Linked DNA regions of Homo sapiens: region 2 is linked to region 1. A link means that fine-mapping ties the variant in region 1 to the expression of a gene that starts in the linked region. Tissue or cell type: iPS cells. Region 1 holds a variant in brackets; the other region holds the start of a gene. All regions are shown on one strand. Distances are from middle to middle.

Region 1 (8,186 bases):
GGATCCAGCACCTTACCATCTATCGCTTTGTAGGGGAGGAGACCAGCTTTTCCTCTCTCCATCTTAGGTTCATGGCTGAGGCCCCTATAACAAAAGACAGATGAACCAGAGAAAAGCTTACATGTTTATTTAACATGCATTTTACATGAAATGGGAGCTTTCATAAGGAAATAAATACCTGAAGAAACAGTTAAACCTGTGTATTTTTTAAACCTGTGTATTTTTATGCTGGGTTTGATGAAGAGAGGAGAGTCATAGAGAAATATAATAGGGTGAAAAGTATGACATGATGATTATAAACTGGGGAAACTCAGCAAGGCCAGTTTGTTCAGTTTCCCTTCTGTGACCTTTTGTTTTCAGGGATAAGGATGTTCCTTTCTTCCTGGCATAGAGAGGGCACATCTTACATGAGAGTCTATGACCTCTTTCAGGGGAAGGTCAGAAAATCTTTCCTAGGTTTTATGAACTGCATCAGGGAAGGAGGCTGGGGGAAAGTCAGAGACACTTTCCCGCTTCTGCTGTTTTCCTCAAATTTCTTCCGTTTAAAATATTCAATACGCCAAGGAACCATATTTTGGAGCAGCATGCCCTGAACCCCATCAGCTTCACTTTTTGTATGTGTACAACAGACACAGAGTGCAGATTTAGAGAGGCAGTCATTTGATCCAAATGAAAAGCCATGCTTCACAGGATACTTTCCTTGTCTGCACGTGTCAAGTCCTCATGTTCATGCACAGTATGTATCTCAAATGTACTCTCGAATGAGAGTAGATACTAATAGTTTAGCAGATTCGTGTTTTCTATTTTTCATGTGGTGAGTGATGTCATATAGCCCCCATGGTAAGTGTTGATAAACATTTTGGGATTTATAGGTTTGTCATTAACATTCTCATGAACAAAGTATTTGATTTTCCATTACACATTTCCTTTCACTTTTTGAGCCCATTAATGCCAAAACATTTTTTGCAAAGTTAAAACGTGTTACTGTCAGGCCTCTGAGCCCAAGCCAAGCCATCGCATCCCCCGTGACTTGCACGTATACGCCCAGATGGCCTGAAGTAACTGAAGAATCACAAAAGAAGTGAATATGCCTTGCCCCACCGTAACTGATGACATTCCACCACAAAAGAAGTGTAAATGGCTGGTCCTTGCCTTAACTGATGACATTACCTTGTGAAAGTCCTTTTCCTGGCTCATCCTGGCTCAAAAAGCACCCCCACTGAGCACCTTGCGACCCCCACTCCTACCCGCCAGAGAACAAACCCCCTTTGACTGTAATTTTCCTTTACCTACCCAAATCCTATAAAACGGCCCCACGCTTATTTCCCTTCGCTGACTCTCTTTTCGGACTCAGCCCACCTGCACCCAGGTGAAATAAACAGCTTTACTGCTCTCACACAAAGCCTGTTTGGTGGTCTCTTCACACGGACGCGCATGAAATTTGGTGCTGTGACTCGGATTGGGGGACCTCCCTTGGGAGATCAATCCCCTGTCCTCCTGTTCTTTGCTCCATGAGAAAGATCCACCTACGACCTCAGGTCCTCAGACCGACCAGCCCAAGAAACATCTCACCAATTTCAAATCCGGTAAGCGGCCTCTTTTTACTCTCTTCTCCAACCTCCCTCACTATCCCTCAACCTCTTTCTCCTTTCAATCGTGGCGCCACACTTCAATCTCTCCCTTCTCTTAATTTCAATTCCTTTCATTTTCTGGTAGAGACAAAAGAGACATGTTTTATCCGTGAACCCAAAACTCCGGCGCCGGTCACGGACTGGGAAGGCAGCCTTCCCTTGGTGTTTGATCATTGCAGGGACGCCTCTCTGAGTATACACTCACGTTTCAAGGGTGTCAGACCATGCAGGGACGCCTGCCTTGGTCCTTCACCCTTAGCGGCAAGTCCCGCTTTCCTGGGGCAGGGGCAAGTACCCCTCAACCCCTTCCCCTTCACCCTTAGCAGCAAGTGCTGCTTTCCTGGGGCAGGGGCAAGTACCCCTCAACCCCTTCTCCTTCACCCTTAGCGGCAAGTCCCGCTTTCCTAGGGGGCAAGAACCCCCCAATCGCTTATTTCCGCCGCACCCCAACCTCTTATCTCTGTGCCCCAATCACTTATTTCTGCACCCTGACCTCTTATCTCTGTGCCCCAATCCCTTATTTCCCTGCCCCAACCCCTTCTCTGCTTTCCTGGAGGGCAAGAACCCTCCGCCCCTTCTCCCTGTCTCTACTCTTTTCTCTGGGCTTGCCTCCTTCACTATGGGTAAGCTTCCACCTTCCATTCCTCCTTCTTCTCCCTTAGCCTGTGTTCTCAAAAACTTAAAACCTCTTCAACTCACATCTGACCTAAAACCTAAATGCCTTATTTTCTTCTGCAATGCTGCTTGACCCCAATACAAACTCGACAGTAGTTCCAAATAGCCAGAAAATGGCACTTTGAATTTTTCCATCCTGCAAAATTCAATAATTCTTGTCGTAAAATAGGCAAACAGTCTGAGGTGCCTGACGTCCAGGCATTCTTTTACACATCAGTCCCTTCCTAGTCTCTGTGACCAGTGCAACTCGTCCCAAATCTTCCTTCTTTCCCTCCCGCCTGTCCCCTCAGTACCAACCCCAAGTGTCGCTGAGTCTTTCTAATCTTCCTTTTCTGCAGACCCATCTGACCTCTCCCTTCCTCCCCAGGTTGTTCCTCGCCAGGCCGAGCTAGGTCCCAATTCTTCCTCAGCCTCTGCTCCTCCACCCTATAATCTTTTTATCGCCTCCCCTCCTCACACCTGGTCGGGCTTACAGTTTCGTTCCGTGACTAGCCCTCCCCCTCCTGCCCAGCAATTTACTCTTAAAAAGGTGGCTGGAGCTAAAGGCATAGTCAAGGTTAATGCTCCTTTTTCTTTATCCCAAATCAGAAGCGTTTAGGCTCTTTTTCATCAAATATAAAAATCCAGCCCAGTTCATGACTTGTTTGGCAGCAACCCCGAGACGCTTTACAGCCCTAGACCCTAAAAGGTCAAAAGGCCGTCTTATTCTCAAAATACATTTTATTACCCAATCTGCTCCAGACATTAAAACTCCAAAAATTAAATTCCGGCCCTCAAACCCCACAACAGGATTTAGTTAACCTCGCCTTCAAGGTGTACAATAATAGAAAAAAGTTGCAATTCCTTGCCTCCACTGTGAGACAAACCCCAGCCACATCTCCAGCACACAAGAACTTCCAAATGCCTGAACGGCAGCGGCCAGGCGTTCCTCCAGAACCTCCTCCCACAGGAGCTTGCTACATGTGCCGGGAATCTGGCCACTGGGCCAAGGAATGCCCGCAGCCTGGGATTCCTCCTAAGCCGTGTCCTATCTGTGTGGGACCCCACTGAAAATCGGACTGTTCTACTCACCTGGCAGCCACTCCCAGAGCCCCTGGAACTCTGGCCCAAGGCTCTCTGACTGACTCCTTCCCAGATCTTCTCGGCTTAGCGGCTGAAGACTGACACCGGCCGATCGCCTCGGAAGCCCCCTAGACCATCACGGATGCCGAGCTTCGGGTAACTCTAACAGTGGAAGGTAAGCCCGTCCCCTTCTTAATCAATACGGAGGCTACTCACTCCACATTACCCTCTTTTCAAGGCGTGTTTCCCTTGCCTCCATAACTGTTGTGGGTATTGACGGCCAGGCTTCTAAACCTCTTAAAACTCCCCAACTCTGGTGCCAACTTAGACAACACTCTTTTAAGCACTCCTTTTTAGTTATCCCCACCTGCCCAGTTCCCTTTTTAGGCTGAGACACTTTAACTAAATTATCTGCTTCCCTGACTATTCCTGGACTACAGCTGTATCTCATTGCAGCCCTTCTTCCCAATCCAAAGCCTCCTTTGCGTCCTCCTCTTGTATCCCCCCACCTTAACCCACAAGTATAAGATACCTCTACTCCCTCCTTGGCGACCGATCATGCACCCCTTACCATCTCATTAAAACCTAATTACCCTTACCCCACTCAACACCAATATCCCATCCCGCAGCACGCTTTAAAAAGATTAAAGCCTGTTATCACTCGCCTGCTACAGCATGGCCTTTTAAAGCCTATAAACTCTCCTTACAATTCCCCCATTTTACCTGTCCTAAAACCAGGCAAGCCTTACAAGTTAGTTCAGGATCTGCGCCTTATCAACCAAATTGTTTTGCCTATCCACCCCGTGGTGCCAAACCCATATACTCTCCTATCCTCGATACCTGCCTCTACAACCCATTATTCTGTTCT[A/G]GATCTCAAACATGCTTTCTTTACTATTCCTTTGCACCCTTCATCCCAGCCTTTCTTCGCTTTCACTTGGACTGACCCTGACACCCATCAGGCTCAGCAAATTACCTAGGCTGTACTGCCGCAAAGCTTCTCAGACAGCCCCCATTACTTCAATCAAGCCCAAATTTCTTCCTCATCTGTTACCTATCTCGGCATAATTCTCATAAAAACACGTGCTCTCCCTGCCAATCGTGTCCGACTGATCTCTCAAACCCAAGCACCTTCTACAAAACAACTCCTTTCCTTCCTAGGCATGGTTAGCGCGGTCAGAATTTTTACACAAGAGCCAGGACCACACCCTGTAGCCTTTCTGTCCAAACAACTTGACCTTACTGTTTTAGCCTAGCCCTCATGTCTGCGTGCAGCGGCTGCTGCTGCTTTAATACTTTTAGAGGCCCTCAAAATAAGTAGAGGCCTTTCCTACAGGGTCCGAGAAGGCCACCGCAGTCATTTCTTTCGTTCTGTCAGACATAATTCCTCAGTTTAGCCTTCCCACCTTAATACAGTCTGATAACAGATGAGCCTTTATTAGTCAAATCAGCCAAGCATTTTTTCAGGCTCTTAGTATTCAGTGAAACCTTTATATCCCTTATGGTCCTCCAAGAAAAGTAGAATGGACTAAAGGTCTTTTAAAAACACACCTCACCAAGCTCAGCCACCAACTTAAAAAGGACTGGACAATACTTTTACCACTTTCCCTTCTCAGAATTCAGGCCTGTCCTCGTAATGCTACAGGGTACAGCCCATTTAAGGTCCTGTATAGACACTCCTTTTTATTACGCCCCAGTCTCATTCCAGACACCAGACCAACTTAGACTGTGCCTCAAAAAAAACAAAAAAACTTGTCATCCCTACTATCTTCTGTCTACTCATACTCCTATTCACCGTTCTCAACTACTCATACATGCCCTGCTCTTGTTTACACTGCCAGTTTACACTGTTTTTCCAAGCCATCACAGCTGATATCTCCTGGTGCTATCCCCAAACTGCCACTCTTAACTCTTGAAGTAAATAAATAATCTTTGCTGGCAGGACTATGCCAAATCTCCTTAAACACTCTCTAATCAGACATCCTGAGTCGTCCCAATTCTTAGACCTTTTATACCTGTTTTTCTCCTTCTGTTATTCCATTTAGTTTTTCAATTCATACAAAACCGTATCCAGGCCATCACCAATCATTCTATACGACAAATGTTTCTTCTAACAACCCCACAATATCACCCCTTACCACAAGACCTCCCTTCAGCTTAATCTCTCCCACTCTAGGTTCCCACGCCGCCCCTAATCCCGCTCGAAGCAGCCCTGAGAAACATCACCCATTCTCTCTCCATACCACCCCCCAAAAAATTTTCGCCGCCCCAACACTTCAACACTATTTTGTTTTATTCTTCTTATTAATATAAGAAGGCAGGAATATCAGGCCTCTGAGCCCAAGCCAAGCCATCGCATCCCCTGTGACTTGCACGTATACGCCCAGATGGCCTGAAGTAACTGAAGAATCACAAAAGAAGTGAATATGCCTTGCCCCACCGTAACTGATGACATTCCACCACAAAAGAAGTGTAAATGGCCGGTCCTTGCCTTAACTGATGACATTACCTTGTGAAAGTCCTTTTCCTGGCTCATCCTGGCTCAAAAAGCACCCCCACTGAGCACCTTGCGACCCCCACTCCTACCCGCCAGAGAACAAACCCCCTTTGACTGTAATTTTCCTTTACTGACCCAAATCCTATAAAACGGCCCCACCCTTATCTCTCTTCGCTGACTCTCTTTTCGGACTCAGCCCACCTGTACCCAGGTGAAATAAACAGCTTTATTGCTCACACAAAGCCTGTTTGGTGGTCTCTTCACACGGACGTGCATGAAAGTTACCAAATAATATTATTTAATAGTTGTCGATTTATACAGCATACCATTAATGTTAAAACCGCTGTTGCAAGAGCATTTAGACTCTTTCTTCATATGCTATGTGGCAGGAATTCTTGACCTCTATTTTCCATAAATATTGTATATATACCTAGACTAAAATGTCCGGTGTTTTCCACTGACAGCACTGAATGGCATCCTGCTATCTTCAGGCATCTCAAATTGAAGTCACTACAGTTGGCTGGTACATCAAGGGGCCAGCAGGGACCACAGCACCAAATCTTCTCTCACCATTATCCCAGATAAAAAGAGTGTGCTGCCTGTAGCTGCTAGCACCCTTTCTTTGATAAGGGAGCACCCCATAAGCTGTCCTGGAAAGGAAGGTGTTAGTTAAGTTGTGTTGCAGGTTGGATTCTCCGGAGGCAGATGCCTAGAAGTTTAGGGCCCGAGGTTTATTTGGCACCAACACCTGTGGAAGAGAGAAGAAGCAGGATTGGGCAGTGAAAGATGTCCAGCAGTGATATGGGCATGACAAAGTCTTGGCCAGAGGCTGTCTCTGTACCACCCACAGTGGGGTATGTGCAGTGCAGTGACATGATGATAGCTCACTGCAGCCTCAACCTCCCAGGCTCAGGCAATCCTCCTGCCTCAGCCTCCTCAAGTCCTCCTTTGAAGAGGTAGCTGGACATCACATCGTTGTCTACCACGTAGTGTGTCTAGATAAGGCTGGGAAAAGTGAGGTGGGTTATCCCTGGGCATCCTCTGGTTTAACAAGAGTAGGAACTCAGTTGACTGCTCTTGTTTCGTATACCATTAGACAAGTCCACAGCAGAAAGTGAAAGCACTGCCAGGTACAGTGACTCATGCCTGTATTCCTAGTGTTTAGGGAGACTGAGGCAGGAGGATCGCTTGAGGCCAGGTGTTTGAGACCAGCCTGGGCAACATAGCAAGACCCTGTCTCTACAAAAATTTAAAAAATTAGCCAGGTGTGGTGGTACACACCTGTAGTGCCATCTACTCAGCAGGTTGAGGGAGGAGGATCACTTAACCCGGGAGGCCGAGGCTGCAGTGAGCTATGATCACACCAATGCACTTCAGCCTGGGCAACAGATTGAGAGCCTGTCTCAAAAAAAAAAAAAAAAAAAAAAGTGAAGGCACCAAGTGGCAATTGTCAGAGGCTGTGGCCTACTCAGGAAGCAGACTTGGAGATGGAGAGTGGTGGACAGGAGGTTTGCTAGGGAGTGGTCTTGGGATCACCACCTCTGGAAGGGGAAAGGAAGAAGGATGGGGCAGGAAGAGAAGTTGGCTGATGCATTAGTCAGGGTTCACTAGAGGGAAAGAACTAATAGGATAGATGTATATATGAAGGGGAGTTTATTAGGAAGAATCAACTCACAAGATCACAAGGTGAAGTCCCACAATAGGCTGTCTGCAAGCTAAGGAGCAAGGAAGCCAGTCTGAGTTCCAAAACCTCAAAAGTAGGGAAGCCGACAATGTGGCCTTCAGTCTGTGGCCGTAAGCTCGAGAGCCCCTGGCAAACCACTGGTCTAAGTCCAAGAGTCCAAAAGCTGAAGAGCTTGGAGTCTGATGTTCAAGAGCAGGAAGGATTCAGCAAGAGAGAAAGATGGAAGGCCAGAAGACTCAGTAAGTCTGCTCTTTCTACCTTTTTCAGCCTGCTTTATTCTAGCAGCTGATTAGATGGTGCCCACCCAGACTGCAGGTGGGTCTGCCTCTCCCAGTCCACTGACTCAAATGTTAATCTCCTTTGACAACACCCTCCCAGACACACCCAGGAACAATACCTTGCATCTTTCAATTCAATCAAGTTGACACTCAATCTTAACCATCACAGCCTATGATTCAGCCTCAACAGAGAGCAACCACATGGCCAGCTCTAGACAAAGTGGGGGCCAGACCTTTATATCTCCTTATAAACCAGTTCTTGGCTGTGGGCACCCTGGGAAGAGGGCATGGTGGTGGGTGAGATGACACTCTTCATTTGAAGCAATTCCGATGAGGGCTGACAGCTGGGGATCTCTGCCAGA
Region 2 (8,186 bases), 58 kb after region 1:
GTCTTGGCTCCAGACCCAGTTGCTAACCACTGTATTGTGCTACTCTCTTCCTGCAACACAAAAGCTCCTTACTTTCTGCTTGGGTATGGGTAAACACATCGCAACTTATAAAAATACAGTGCTGACCTTTTTCTGGGTGAGACGTGGGAAGGGGTGTTAACTCCCAGTTGGTACTTTCCTTGATAACTCACTCTGTTTTGTATCCAATTAAGAAAAATACGTTGCTTTTAAACAATGCACTAACTTAAGCTTCCTATGTCTCAGTTTTCTCATATTAAATTGGGAATAGACATTTCTATGATGACTTTTCCTCTGTATTTTACCTCATCAAGATTCAGTGATAGGAAAAATAGGGTATTAACTAAGAAGGTTTTTGAAATCTTCAGGTAAAAAAAATGTGGTATTTTAACAAGAAAATTGATACAACAGCAGATACTACAACTGGTAAAATGAATTTTAACTTTGGTGTCCCTAGATGCTCCCTATTCAGTTCTTAGTAAATATATTTCAATCTAGAAGAAAATTGGGACCCTGCCAACTAGTATTAATGCTTGCTTGCCTATTAATTGAAGCACACTTTTGGAAAATGTTGTATGTATCTGGGGAAATATAATGCATTCAGCATAAGAATAAATCTTTTTTTTGAGAGAGCTAGACCTAGAGATTTTCCTCACTTTTCAGTCATGCCACAATCTTTCTGGTTTATCAGCAACTTTTTCTCTGCTAAGCAGTGATGGTAATGCATACATTTGCCTTTTTCAGTAAATCATCCTTTTATAATTTGGCTTTCTTTCAATCTTAGATTCCCATCAGAAGGGTTTTACCTCAAGGCATATTGCAACCAATTTCCCCCATAATTAATGCCATATCTGCCTCAGAGTCCATTTCAATTCCCAAATGAAAATTGATGAGGCAGCCAACCACAAATAAGGATCACATAGCACTGATTAAACTATCAGACTAGTTTCCAGGCTATCATGTTACAGTGCTGAATCATAAGCAGAGGGTGAGTTTTCTGGTCTTTTGCAATGTATATTGCTCATAGTAAGTGTCCATAAATGGCTCTTAGCAGATGAAGAGAAGCATTTTATATGGCCCCTATCAAATTCTACCAGAAAGACTAATGATTAAAGAGGTTTGTGTTACAGGAACCAAGACTTCATAGCACATGAAAGAAAATTGTATCTAGACTTGATAAAAATGAGCCACAAACTGCTACAAAAATCACCAGGACAAGAAAAACTCACTTAGGTGTTTTTATCCCATCCACATGGAGTGTGAATGGTTAAGTCAGGTAACTGCATTTTGCCTAGGAAGACCAAATCCTCTCTCCACCAGCCTTCAATTTCAGACTCCAGCAGGGAGCTGAATTGGAGGTGGATGTGCGTAGCAACTATGCACCAGTCAGTAGCAAGAATTCATTCCTTCATCCCATTCATTCATTCATTCATTCACTCACTTAATATTTATTTACCTATTTTCCAGGTGCTGTGTGAAGAATGGAAACATGCAACAATAAAGACACCAGTCCTGGTGGACCTGATGGCCTATGTCTGGTGTGGCGGGGGACAGATAAGTAAACAGATCGTCCTATACGGGGTAGCCAACGCTATCATCTGATAGAAGTAAGCATGAGGTACCAGTCAAGTATGCAAGTATCTGTGCATGAGATGCTAGTCAAGTATTTGTGTGTGCATGTTTGAAGGCTTCCTGGAAGAGATCACTGAAACTCTAAGAGTAGGTAGCCAGGTTAAGAATGGGGGCAGAGCAGGATATCTGAGGCAGTGGAAGCAATTTGAGCAATGTGTGGAGTGGAGAGAGAACCTGACTTGTTTGATAAGCTTGGAAGGTTAAGCATAGCTAGAACAGGGTATTGGAAGAGTTTTATAGAGGAAAAGATGACTAGAGGTAGGCTGCCAGATGTTCTCTCCCAAAATATTTGACCATCAGTGTAGCAGGGCAGATATTAGTGTGATTATGAAAACATATATGTGTGTGTGTATATACATATGTATGTATATTTAAATGCATTACATATTTCAATCAGTGATATGTGTTTTTCTAGGTATCTTTTTGGCATATTTTTAAGAAACACATTTCGAAAATTAAATGTAGGTGTGAACCCTTCGCCACACCCAAAGAACCATTCTTGACACTCATGCAGAACATTTTATGCCCCAGTTTGAATATCTGACTTTGGTTTATCTCACTGATACCTGTAGCCCCTCCAAAGTAGTGGTAGACAGAGCTGAGACAAGAAATTTCACAGCTTTTTCCTATTGTGGAACAAACAATCTGAGTTTAAAACATATTGACTTACTGAATTAAAGTAAGTCACTCCACCTCTTAAAGACTCAGTCACACATCCAATTTTCCAGGGGCCTGTGGCCACTGAGTGTCACAGAGTGTGGAAGGCTGTAGGGGCCAGTCCAGAGGAGAGACCACATGGCCTGATTGCCCAGTAGAAATTGATATTCACAAAAGAATGCTGGCTCAAAAAAATAAATTGAAAAAAAAAAAAAAACCCCAGCAACACAGTGAACAGGTGGCTTAGTATGGCTGGCCGTGCTTGCACTTTTTAATGACCTGATTTGTTTCCAAAATTTGTTTTAGGTAATGTATTAGTCTGTTCTCATGCTGCTGTAAAGAACTACCCAAGACTGGGTAATTTATAAAGAAAAGAGGTTTGATTGACTCACAGTTCCACAGGCTGTACAGGAGGCATGGCTTGGGAAGCCTCGAGAAATTTACAATCATGGCGGAAGGCAAAGGGGAAGCCAGCATGTCTCACATGGCAGGAGCAGGAGGAATAGAGAGCAGGAGGAGGTGCTACACATTTCAAAAAGCCAGATCTCATGAGAACTCACTCACTATCATGAGAACAGCAAGGGGGAAGTCCGCCCCCATGATCCAGTCACCTCCCACCAGACCCCTCCTCCAACACTGGGATTACAATTTGACATGTGATTTGGGTGGGGACACAGGGTCAAACCATATCAGGTAACAAAACTCCAGTCTCAAAAATGGTAAGTCAATTTTATTGCTATTATAATTCTTAAAACTGGTGTTGATGATGATGATGATAGCAGTTATTTGTACAGTAACATGCCCAAGACAAATCCCAAGAGAGGAACATAAACAAAATCAAGTGGGGAGATTTGACTTTGCCCAAGTTCTTCTCAACTAGAAATTTCTAAAGGTGTTTTGTGTGGAGTGCTGCGCTATGTGCAGTTTTCAGCTATTCAACCTCAAGGATGTCAAATTGTTGGAAGAGATTCAAAGAAGGATAATCAAACTTGGATGGAGCTGACTTAAAGAAATGGGCTAACCTCCAGAAAGAATGCCATTGAATCCAGAGAGAGGTGCCGTTGAATCAGCCCTTGCTGATGAAGCCTCTTCACTGTACTGCTCAGACCTCTCCATCCTGGTGGCAAGGGCTTAGACCATTATTCATGGTCTGACTGGCCTCGAGGTGGCTGTCTCGCCTTTGAAAAAGGGCAGACACAGAGCATGTTCAGAGCACGGAGCCATACTGTGCGATTTCTTCAAAGAGAGCTTAACCACAGGTTTGTCACAGACTCCTCTTGCTCCTTCCTTCCAATTTAGTCCTTAAATGTGGTCCAACTACAACAAGAGGGAAGTCTCACAATCTAGAATATTGGGGGTTTTGTCACTATTCATTTTTATTAATAGAAAACAAACCTTTATTCCAAATTTGTTATACTTGAAATTGCTAATTTAAAAAAATGAATTTAGGGCTGAGGTGGGAGGATCATTTGAGGCCAGGAGTTCGAGACCAGTCTGGACAACATAGTGAGACCCTGTCTCTAAAAACACTGGAAAAACAGTTAGCTGGGTATGGTGGCAGGTGCCTGTAGTCCCAGCTACTCAGGAGGCTGAGGCAGGAGGATCACTTGAGCCTAGGAGTTGAAGGCTGCAGTGAGCTATGATAGTGCCTCTGCACTCCAGCCTGGGTGACAGAGCAAGAAACTGTCTCCAAAACAAATATATTGAATTGAAAATAATCACGTAATAATCTTGCTTTGACTAAGACAATGAAACTGTGGCTTTTAAAAAAAAAGTATTTTAGCACCATATGCTCATTTGTCTTTCAGAATTTGGATTAATGAATGACGTAACTGCTTCAGGGCAACACACCCTCACTGCAGCTGCTTAGCCCAGGAAGCAGCAAGGTCAATACAAGGAGAGCCACAGGCCTGGGGAGATGCATGCCTTCCTTCCTGGCCACGTGGATCTCACTACTTAGCCCAGATGGCCTGCGAGAAGGACAAAGCCAAGCACTTCACAACACTGTCAGTTGCTGTCCTGAAGAAGGTGGCCAGGAGCTCTAGAAGGATTCAAAGCCCCAGGGATTTTTGGTTTTTATGTATACACTTCTCTTTACATACTTGTTCCTCAACATCCAATCAGCCTTGCAGGTTTGTCCCCGCTCCTAGCATTCAGAAACACTCAAGAGCAGGGTGGGTCAGAGCTCTCCACCACATACGCAGCAGAGTGAAAGAAGCTGCCCTGCAGGACAGCTCCAGGCTCATGGCCACCCCTCCTCACATGCATACCTCCTCCTCTTCCACCAAACAACAACAAACTCCTTCATGTAGCATTCACGCCCTCCTCTTGTGGCCTCTACCTGCCATCCCACACCAATCCCTTTTTATGTCCCCACAGGTACCCAGGAGTCTCCCCTAACTAAATTCCCCACTGCTTCTCCAAATCACCCCAATCCTACTTCCCACTGAAACTAACAAGAAGGGAAGGAAGGTGTTAACAAATGAAGTCTTCGAAGGAAGTCACCCCAAGAATCTGGGCCTACTAGTCATTCCCTAAGGCTCAGCTCTTGGCATTTGCTTCGTTCCCTGGGCCATTATTTTCATACTGTGAAGAAATTTCACCCTAGTCCCATTTTGGAGAGCAAGTGTTGGTACAGTGCTGGGTAAAGACCCTGACACCAGGTCCTGGTCCCTGGCCCAGAGCAGGGGATATGAAGGGAAGCCCCACTCACTGTGTGCTCCCTCACTGACTCCTCAAAGGAATTCCAGGAAGGGTGCTTTAGTGACCCTTTGGCTCACAGAGTTAGAGTGACCTGCCCAAGGCCACCCAGAGAATGAATGGTGGGACTGAGATCACACCTGGGCCTGCCTGGCTGCCAAGCCTTTTGCTATTTTCATTATTCCACATTTCTTTCCAAGGATACAGAAAGCAGGGATAGGAAGTGCTGTGGAAACAAGCAAAAAGCCTTATCCATAGTCAGCATCCAAAAAGTACTATACCTTCTCTGACCCCTGCTTTATTTATTTGTTTATTTTCAGGGATGATGTAATAGCCAGAAAAATAAGTGAACAGAAGATTCCGGGTTCTACTTTATGCCAATTTTTCTTAAATATCTCAGTCACTAGAAAAAGATCTATTTGAAAATCTTGCTCTGAGCAGTTTCTGTCTTGGGCCCAGTTGTTTGAGGAGCCTGTTGAATTTTTAAATTTATTAGTGTTCCCATGCTTCATTCATTGGCATATATGTATATTCTCTATACTTTATAATTACAAGTAAGCTCTTGATAATAAAAAGTAACTGTCATTCTGTGAAGCTCTTTAATGCAGCCAAAGATAATTTCAGGGGGCAATTGGCAGTCTAAGTCCTTGCTTTCTCTCATTTTAAAGGAGAACCAAATCAACTTAGAGTGAATTTGTTCAAATGTGGGTAAGATTTAACAGGCACTTCAGCTGCCCAGGGTACTTTTCCATGTCTCTCCAACCAACCCCACCCAAATAGCTTAGGATTGGCATTTTCTGATGAGCACAGGGATAGAGAATGAGAACGGAGTCAGGTCCTCAGGTATTCAAGGTTAGAATTCCTTCTTAACCTTGCCCACTATGCCCTATGTGGGGACATGCTACAGCAGAGATCACTTGAGAATTATCCTGTGGCTCACACTGCCATAATTAGTTATCTGTTCGGCACCTCTCAACTAATCAGAACAATGGCACATCCAAAAGTAAAAGGAGAAGAAAGGAGACAAGAATACAGCGACTGAATAATAAAATGGGTGAATCAGTTAGCAGAGCAAAAGACAGCACAGTCATAGGCTGGCTAAGGTTATACTTTTTGTTTTTTATTTTATTTTTTAGGCAGAGCAAGACAGTCTTGCTCTGTCACCCAGGCATAAGTGCAGTGGCATGATCTCTGCTCACTGCAACCTCTGCCTCCCGAGTTCAAGTGATTCTCATGTTTCAACCTCCTGAGTAGCTGGGATTACAGGTGTGCGTAACCACGCCTGGCTAATTTTTGAATTTTTAGTAGAGACGGGGTTTCACCATGTTGACCAGGCTGGTCTCGAACTCCTGACCTCAAGTGATCCACCCGCGTCAGCTTCTGAAAGTGCTGGGATTACAGGCATGAGCCACCGCACCTGGCTAGCTTTATTATTAAGCCCTGTCAGCACCCACAAAGAGAAGTACTGGGATGGCACAGACAGCGGAGACAGTGACAAAGACCAAGGTTAAGGCTGGAGTTATGTGGAAAAAGAAAATGGAATGAGACCAAGCAATTGGGGATGAAGAATAAAAAGCAGAACCAGTGACAGCAGGGAGCAGAGATCAGAAGGAACAAGAAGATACTCTGGAAGAATACAACCAAACAAGAAAAAGAATGAATTGTATGTGAACATTGAGTTTAGGGGCAAGCTGACTGTCTTAGCCAGTTCAGGCTGCTGTAACAAAACACCAAAAACTGGGTAGCTTTTAAAACAGAAATGTATTGCTCACAGTTCTGGGGGCTGGGAAGGTTAAGATGAAGCTGCTAGCACATTCAGCATCTGTTGAAGACCTGGTTCACTGATGGCGCCTTCTAGCTGTGTCCTCACATAGTGAAAGGGGGTGAATGAGCTCCATTGGGCCTCTTTTATTAGGACAATAATCCCACTCATGAAGGTTCATGATCTTATCACCTCCCCCAAAGCCCCACCTCCTAATACCATCGCTTGGGAGTTGAGGATTTCAACGTATGAATTTTGGGAAGGACACAAACATTTAGATTATAGCACCAGCTTACAAATCTCAATGGCTCCTGAGGTTGGCATCACGGGATTATAGAAAAGCACCATAACTGAGGCTTAGCATGAGGCTGAGTCATAAAGAGCATTTAAAGTCATGAATGTGTTATATATGGAAGACCACAGAGATGTGTCATAAGTTTTAGATGGATTTTGATACAGTATAGTTGAAATTTAGATTTTATCAGTAAAAGCCTAAGCATTGAGCTATTTGCAAGGATAACCAGTTTCCAACCATCCCAGATAACTAAAGGATAGTCAAAAAATCACTATCCAAAGGCTATTGTTGTTTCCAAAGGCACAGAGATGTAAAAGTGGGGCCACCTTAAGAAAAAGACATGGATTCCTATTGCTGGATCAGAGGGTCCAGGGGGAGGGGTGGAGGTGGTGTGGAATCGCAAAGCTCGGGAGACACTGAATGCATTGAAACAAGGGTGTGTCTTGAGCTACTTACGTTTTGGAAATACAATACTGGCAGGATACTATAGGAGACTGCAGTGGGAGAAAAATTGTCCGCAGGACCAAGAATAAGGTAAGGCAAGTGAGGTGCTTATCTCTGATGTAAAATTTAAGGAAGTGCTAAAACCCCAAGTTATTAATAATAAATAATATTTTAATGCAATATTTTTAGAAATAAATATGTGTGCACAAAATACATGATGAACAAAATATCAAAAAAATTTTATTATTAAAATATCAAAAATTTAAATCAAGACAGACTCAGCAGTGACAAAGGCAATATCCAGGAGAGGCTGGATGACTCAGAGAGATGTTTAAGAGGAAGGATTAAGTAACTGATCAAATGTTGCTGGAACAGTGAAACCGGGGAGACATGGGAGTCAAGGACAAAGCCCAAGTTTATGACTCAGGGGGACCTGCCAGTCACCAGCGTAGGGCAGTCAGAGAAGAGGTAGATTTACAGGAGGATGCGGGTGAGATCTGCCGTGAGTTTGTCACATTTGAGGTGTGCATGGGATATCAAAGGGGAGGAAATCTAGCCAGTGACAGGGCATATGGACCTAGCACTCAGTAGAGAAGTCTGGGCTGGCCATAAAGGGTGGGGATTTCTCACATGTAGGTGCTGCTGGGAGCTGTGTGTGTAGGTGAGCCTGACCAAAGA

What was found. PIP is the estimated chance that this variant, and not a neighbour inherited with it, causes the effect.
Region 2: it holds the start of LINC01050, and the variant in region 1 is fine-mapped to the expression of LINC01050 in iPS cells (HipSci, PIP 0.95).

The regions. Positions count from the first base shown.
Region 1 is chr13:42,865,958-42,874,143 of GRCh38, reverse strand. It overlaps LINC00428 (long intergenic non-protein coding RNA 428), which reads left to right and starts at 1,400. Exons shown (of 5, transcript NR_126389.1): 1 at 1,400-1,586; 2 at 3,442-3,543. RefSeq lists enhancers at 705-1,493, 3,074-3,863, 5,487-6,089. The variant A/G (reference allele first, on the strand shown) is at 4,237.
Region 2 is chr13:42,807,772-42,815,957 of GRCh38, reverse strand. LINC01050 (long intergenic non-protein coding RNA 1050) reads left to right here and starts at 3,396. Exons shown (of 3, transcript NR_125747.1): 1 at 3,396-3,566; 2 at 4,116-4,439; 3 at 5,328-5,592.